Homo sapiens: one gene and its partner. The gene in region 2 interacts genetically with the main gene of each other region. Each region holds a gene or a part of one and is shown on either strand. Other genes may lie near its edges.

Region 1 (3,819 bases), about 16 Mb from region 2:
TAGGAAGAACATGTAGAATAGGACAATTGGGAAAGACCAGAGCTAAACCTTAGACTAAGACTTAACAGGTGAAACAGATATCATCTGGGCAAACGGGGTTGAGGAAAGAATTGAAACAAGCACTTTCTGGGAAACTGCAACTTATTCACAATGACCCAGGGATAGGAAGAAGGAAAGCATTGTAGGTAAGTCTGAAGAGGTCAGGCAGGAGACTTTAAGAGTCTTCCAATGTCTTGCTAAGGAGTTGGACTTATCCTGATAGGGCAGCTGTGAAACTAATGCTATTTGGAAATGGAATACTCTGAATCTGCATGAAGAAAAACAATTGAGCAAGTGAGGAGTTAATGTGTCTAAAAACTTAAATTTCAATAGTATCATCCAGGAGAGTGAAATACTCGGAGGGCAGGAAACCACCAAAAAATGTAAAGAAAAGGAAACTCTGGTTGGGTGCAGTGGCCCACGCCTGTAATCCCAGCACTTTGGGAGGCTGAAACAGGAGGATCACCTAAGGTCTGGAGTTCAAGACCAGCCTGGCCAATATGGTGAAACTCCGTCTCTACTAAAAATACAAAAATTAGCTGGGCATGGTGGCATGCATCTGTAATCCCAGCTATTCAGGAGGCTGAGGCAGAAGAATTGCTTGAACCCAGGAGGCAGAGGTTGCAGTGAGCCAAAGTTGCACCATTGCACCGCAGCCTGGGAGACAAGAGCGAGACTCCATCTCAAAAAAATAAAATAATATAAAGAAAAGGAAACTCAAACATCAGATTTATCTGCAAAAGTAAACATTTATTCGGCTTTCACGACCTATGAGGATAAATAGCCTCTCCATATGCTACAACCCCAGCTTCTGGTGGCGGGGGTAGGATTGATGTGTGAATAAATTAACGAAACACTTTCACTTACCGTATAAAGTAAAAGAGTAGCAATTCAGAAAGTCATTAATCAGAAATCATTTTATAACAAGTATATAGCACCAAATGGGAACACTCAACACTAGTTTTATCTAACCATCCCTACTTCTAAGTATTAATGCAGTTTTACGGAGGAAAAACACTGTTGAAAAGAAAAATAGCATTTTTTGTTATTGTTTGGTTTTGTTTTTTGAGACAGGCTCTCACTCTGTCGCCCAGGCTGGAATGCAGTGGCACGATCACACCTCATTGCATCCTCGACCTCCCAGGCTCAAGTGATCCTCCCACCTCAGCTTCCCAAGTAGCTGAGACCACGGGTGCTGCACCACCATGCCCAGCTACTTTTTCTATTTTTTGTAGCGATGGGGTTTTGCCATGTTGCCCGGGCTGGTCTTAAAGTTCTGGGCTCAAGCAATTCGACCGCCTCAACCTTCCAAAGTGCTGGGATGACAGGCATGAGCCACTGCACCCAACCACAGAAAGGCAGTTCTAACTGTCCACCTCCACCACTTTTCTCTGTAATTCAGGCATTACTGACCATTTCATCTTTGAGACTGAGATAATGCTTTGACCTGGCATTACTACAAAAACTCTAGGTTTCAAATTATACTCAGTCTTCCATGCATTCTATCTTTTTGGAACTAAACCTCCAAGAGTTTATCTCTAATTAACATAACTTACAATTTGGGGATGGGTAACCAATCAAAACTGAGGTACCAAGGGCTGAACCCCTCCTGAAGACAGAATAATGGAAAACCCTGGCACTAACTTTGAAAACCAGCGGGCAGCCAGAGGCCACACAGTGCAAGCAGCGGTCAATGCAGTACATAGGGAGGACAGATCCTCTGCTCAAGTTGGCCATAGGGAGGACAGACAGATCCTCTGCTCAATCTGGCCTACCTCATGATTCCACCCAACTTGTACCTCAGTCTCCTATCTCCTGGTACTTGGTGTCCATACAACTCAGCTCTCAGAACACCGTGGCGGATGAGGACAACGGCGCATCCCTTTTCTGAAAGGCTGGTGACTCACTCGCTACTGCCCCCTTTCTGTTTAAAGGCCACCTTCCTTAAGTAGTCTTGTTTTCTGGAATCCCTCAGCTCACACAGCCAAGAGGAGACTCATTCTTTTTTTTCTTCCCTTAAACACCAACTTTCATTCTTACAGAAGGAATAGAAATCACCACCCTGCTCAGATGAGCCAATGCAAATACCTTCTCTGAAACAGGCCTTCAAAACAAAATATCAAAGGGGAAGAGTAGCTGATTTTTTAACCCTTAACACTGAAAAATGCAGAGCTTCAGTTGAAGTCACAGATGAAGTACAATATGTGTTATGTTCTTAGCAGGGAAATGACTCAAGATTCAAAACAACTTTAGTAGCATCATTGAAAGCACAAAAATGTAAATTCTTTCCCAGCAGACCCCTCAAAATCCAGTGACGATCATTCAGGGACAACAGGCTCCTGTTGGTCATGGTTACTGACAGAGCTTAATTCTCACGCTGTCTCTTGAGTATCTTCACCTCATCAAAGAGCCTAGGTTTGTAGCACATTTTCATTTGTGATATTAAAAGACAAAGAATAGCAAAAAAAAAAAAAAATTAGAGAAAACAAGTGGAGGTTAGGCAGATGAAACAAACTATGTTAACTGTTTGGCATTTGAAATAGGCAGGTCACATTTTGAGAGGCTGTTTCTACCACTGTAATTAGAGAAGTGCATGGGTGTTGCTCCGCCTAAGGAGGGGGAAAAAAATCGAGTTGGCTCTTTCCCTTTTCCAGTACTGAAAGCAGTGGATAACACTGTTTCAGCTCCACTGCCCCAGAGAAAGAGTGCATTTGAGCAGTACAGTGGATCGCTCTGTTCTCTGATGACTGACTTTGGAAGTAGCCAGTGCAAGACAGAAACTACCAACTGGAAACAGACCTTCCAGACTTGAAACTCAACTTCATCAATGTCCATACCACACAAATCTACTTCCTGTCTTCTTCTCCTTTCTCTGACGGGGGAAAAAAAAAGTGGGCAAGGACTAGATCTCTGCTAGTTTTATGGAGATGAAATGAGTGCTAGGGGTACATCAAGCAAAAAAACATTCAACCAAAAATAAGAAGGCAACTCCAAGTCATGTAAAAAGGGTCACTTCAGAGCTGTGAAGGAACACGCTTGTCTTTATCTCTGAGGACCTTAAGAAAAGTATTTCCCACTTGGAAATCTACTACACACTCATCTTTCTCCTCCCCAGAAGAATGGCCCTTGGTTTCACCGTTTCAGGCAGCAAATTCTGACAACGGGATCCTGTGTTACTTGCCCTGGTAATATCAGTTTTCAGGATTGTATACCTATATTGCAATATAAAGAAGAATGGCACAGAGTCCATGAAGGGAACATGAGAATAAGCCAATAAGTCTCTCCAGAGAAACGCCCTTCCCTTCCCCAAGATACAACATAAATGAAAGTAGAAATAACTTTAGTACTTCACATGCTTGTAAGATGCCATTCTCTAAATGGCATAAATTACAAACCCAGTTTTAAGGACTAAAACTCACTTATTTCTTTAGTCTTCAAATACCTACTCACCATTTACTAAGTAAAATGAAGATAAATATTTTGGATCTAAAGCTATATTACTTACTGCATGAATATGTGAGTCACTGGGAGCATACACACCCCTCTAGTTAAAAAAAGAAAAACTATGCTTGCTGCAGATATTTTACCTACTAACCAAAGCAACATACTACATACTAGTGGACAGAAAGCACTGCCTCATCGGGTAAAAATAATCTGATGTATGAGGAATACAAAAAGCAGTTTCAAACTCCAGCTGTCATTTCCAGAGAGTGTGTTGCCAAAGGTATGAATGAGAATGAGTTATTCTCCTGCAGAAGAATGATGTTCTATCAAACAAAA
Region 2 (3,360 bases):
GTCTTAGTACAGAACAAAATGGAGTCTCCTATGTCTACTTCTTTCTACACAGACACAGTAACAATCTGATCTCTCTTGCTTTTCCCCACACTCTCACTCAGCATAATCATGCTGATATTTATCCAAGTCTAAAATCCTTTGATATTCATCCGTGATACACATCCATGTTGCATGTGTCAAAAGCCCATTCCCCTGTACGGATCTAACACAGCCTGTTTATCCATTCACATGTGGATGGATTTCTGGATCATTTCCAGTTTTTGCTCATACAAATAAAGCCGCTGTGAACCTTTGTGTACAAATCTTGGTCTGGACAAATGCTTCCACTTATCTCGGGTAAATACCTAGGAGGGGGATGACTGTGTCATATGGTAGGTCCATATTTAGCTCTTTAAGAAACTACTGGCCGGGTGGGGTGGCTCACACTTGTAATCCCAGCACTTTGGGAGGCTGAGGCGGGTGGATCACAAGGTCAGGAGGTCGAGACCATCATGGCTAACACAGTGAAACCCCGTCTCTACTAAAAAATACAAAAAATTAACAGGGCATGGTGGCGGGCGCCTGTAGTCCCAGCTACTTGGGAGGCTGAGGCAGGAGAATGGCGTGAACTCGGGAGGTGGAGCTTGCAGTGAGCCGAGATCTCGCCACTGCACTCCAGCCTGGGCGACAGAGCAAGACTCCGTCTCAAAAAAAAAAAAAAAAAAACTACCAAACTCTTTTCCAAAGTGGTTGCACCATGTTGCATTCCCACCAGCAGCATATGGGAGTTCCAGTTCCTCCACATCCTTGTCAACACTTGAGATTTTTTGTTTTAAATTACAGCCATCCTAGTGGGCGTGAAATATTATCTCACTGAGGTTCTATTTTGCATTTCCATAATGACTGAAGATGTGGAGCATCTATTCGTGTGCCTGTTTGCTGACAAAATATCTTCTTTGGTGAACCATGTGTTCACTTATTTTGTCCAATTTGTGAATAGGGTTTTTTTTTTATTATTGAGTTTTGAGATTTCTTTGCGTATTTAGGATATGAGTGTTTTACCAGATATATGATTTGCGAATAGTGTCTCCTAGTTTGTTGTTTGTGTATTTTCTTGGAAGCGTCCTTCAGAGGCTGGGCATGGTGGCTCGCGCCTGTAATCCCAGCACTTTCGGAGGCCGAGGTGGGCAGATCACTTGAGGTCAGGAGTTCGAGACCAGCCTGGCCAACATGGTGAAACCCCATCTCTACTAAAAATACCAAAACATTAGCCAGGCATGGTGGCGGGCACCTGTAATTCCAGCTACTCGAAAGGCTGAGGCAGGAGAATTGCTTGAACCCGGGAGGCAGGGAGGTTGCAGTGAGCTGAGATCGTGCCATTGCACTCCACCTGGGCAACAAGAACAAAACTTGGTCTCAAAAAAAAAATTTCCTTATTATCCTTTTTATTGTTGTTGAGATGGAGTTTCACTCTGTTGAGCAGGCTAGAGTGCAGTGGTAAGATCTTGGCTCACTGCAACCCCTGCCTCCTGGGTTCAAGCGATTCTCCTGTCTCAGTCTCCCAAGCAGCTGGGACTACAGGCACCTGCCACCACGCCTGGCTAATTTTTGTATTTTTAGTAGAGATAGAGTTTCACCATCTTGGCCAGGATGGTCTCGAACTCCTGATCTTGTGATCTGCCTGCCTCGGCCTCCCAAAGTGCTGGGATTACAGGTGTGAGCCACCGCGCCTGGCCTCTTGCTTACTTTAGGTTTAATGTGCTCTTTTTCTGGTTGGTTAATGTAGCAGCTGAGGTCATTACTGTGAGATCTTTGCTAACACAGATGTTTAGTGCTACACATTTTCCCCAAGTACTGCTTTAGTGGCATCTCACAAATTATAAGTTGTGTTTTTGCTTTCATTCAATTGAAAACACTTTCTAATTTCCCTTTAGACATCTTTCTTAAACAGATTTTAGAACTGTGTTTAGTTTTAAAATATTTGAGGATTTCCCAGAATTTTTCCTATTGATTTTGTTTTGTTTTGCTTTTCTGAGACGGAGTCTTGCTCTGTCACCAGGCTGGAGTGCAATGGCACAATCTCAGCTCACTGCAACCTCTGCCTCTTGGTTTCAAGAGATTCTCCTGCCTCAGCCTCCCGAGTAGCTGGGACTACAGGCATGCACCATCACGCCCAGCTACTTTTTGTATTTTTAGTAGAAATGGGGTTTCACCATGTTGGTCAGGATGGTTTTGATCTCTTGACCTCGTGATCCACCCACCTCGGCCTCCCAAAGTGTTGGGATTATGGGCGTGAGCCACCAGGCCTGGCCTTCCTATTGATTTCTAATTGAATTTGATTATACTTTGCATGCTTAAATTCTTCTCAATTTATTGAGATCTGTTTGCATGGAGAGAGAAATCCTACTCTATTCCTCTTCTTATAGGCCACTAATCCTATTGGATTAATAATTCACCCTTACGATTTTATTTAACCCTAATTACCTCCTAGAGGCCCTTCCTCCAAATACAGGTATATTAGGGGTTAGGGCTTCAACGTAGGAACGGGGGTGGGCACCATTGAGTCAATAGCAGGATATGGGATTTATCTATTTTTCCTGCAGTTCTTTTACGTATTTTGAAGCTGTGTTATTAGAGGTGTAGGCATTTAGGATTATTATGTTCATTAGTCGACTCCCTTTGTGAAATGACTATATTTGATTTTCTTTGCTTTGAAATCTACTTTGTCTTGTATTAATGTAGCCACTCTAGCTTTCTTTTTTTTTTTCTTTTTTTTTTTGAGATAGAGTTTCACTCTTGTTGCCCAGGCTGGAGTGCAATGGCGCGATCTCGGCTCACTGCACCCTTTGCCTGTGGGTTCAAGCGATTCTCCTACGTCAGCCTCCCAAGTAGCTGGGACTACAGGCCCACGCCACCATGCCCGGCTAATTTTGTATTTTTAGTAGAGATGGAGTTTCCTTATGTTGCCTAGACTGGTCTTTAACTCCTGGGCTCAAGGGATCTGCCCACCTCAGCCTCCCAAAGTGCTGGGAATTGCAGGCGTGAGCCACTGTGCCTGGCCTCCAGCTTTCTTTTGACTAGTGTTAGCATGGTATATCTTTTCTATCCTTTCAAGCTTTTTTTTTTTTTAGTAGATAATGTCTTTTTGCACATAACTTATTGTTGGATTTGCTTTATTTTTCCAACCTGCCAATCTGTCATTTACCAAGAGTATTTATTTTTGACATTCGTATTTAATGTGCTTAGTCATATAGTTTTGAGTCTGTCATCTTGCAATTTGTTTTTTGTTTCATCTGCCCTTTGTTCTCTCTTTACCTGCCTTCCTCTGGGTTGAGTATTTTATGTTTCTGTCTTACCTCCTTTGTTGGCTTACTAGGTATC

The links.
Region 1: changes in FN3K (region 2) and PRKCA together harm fitness more than expected from each alone (negative genetic interaction), as found in Homo sapiens cells (one large-scale study listed by BioGRID).

Annotation. Positions count from the first base shown.
Region 1 is NC_000017.11:66,308,904-66,312,722, reverse strand, and holds part of PRKCA (protein kinase C alpha type), read right to left. Parts: intron 1-3,819. UniProt on the Homo sapiens protein: Calcium-activated, phospholipid- and diacylglycerol (DAG)-dependent serine/threonine-protein kinase that is involved in positive and negative regulation of cell proliferation, apoptosis, differentiation, migration and adhesion, tumorigenesis, cardiac hypertrophy, angiogenesis, platelet function and inflammation, by directly phosphorylating targets such as RAF1, BCL2, CSPG4, TNNT2/CTNT, or activating signaling cascade involving MAPK1/3 (ERK1/2) and RAP1GAP.
Region 2 is NC_000017.11:82,745,408-82,748,767, forward strand, and holds part of FN3K (fructosamine-3-kinase), read left to right. Parts: intron 1-3,360. UniProt on the Homo sapiens protein: Fructosamine-3-kinase involved in protein deglycation by mediating phosphorylation of fructoselysine residues on glycated proteins, to generate fructoselysine-3 phosphate.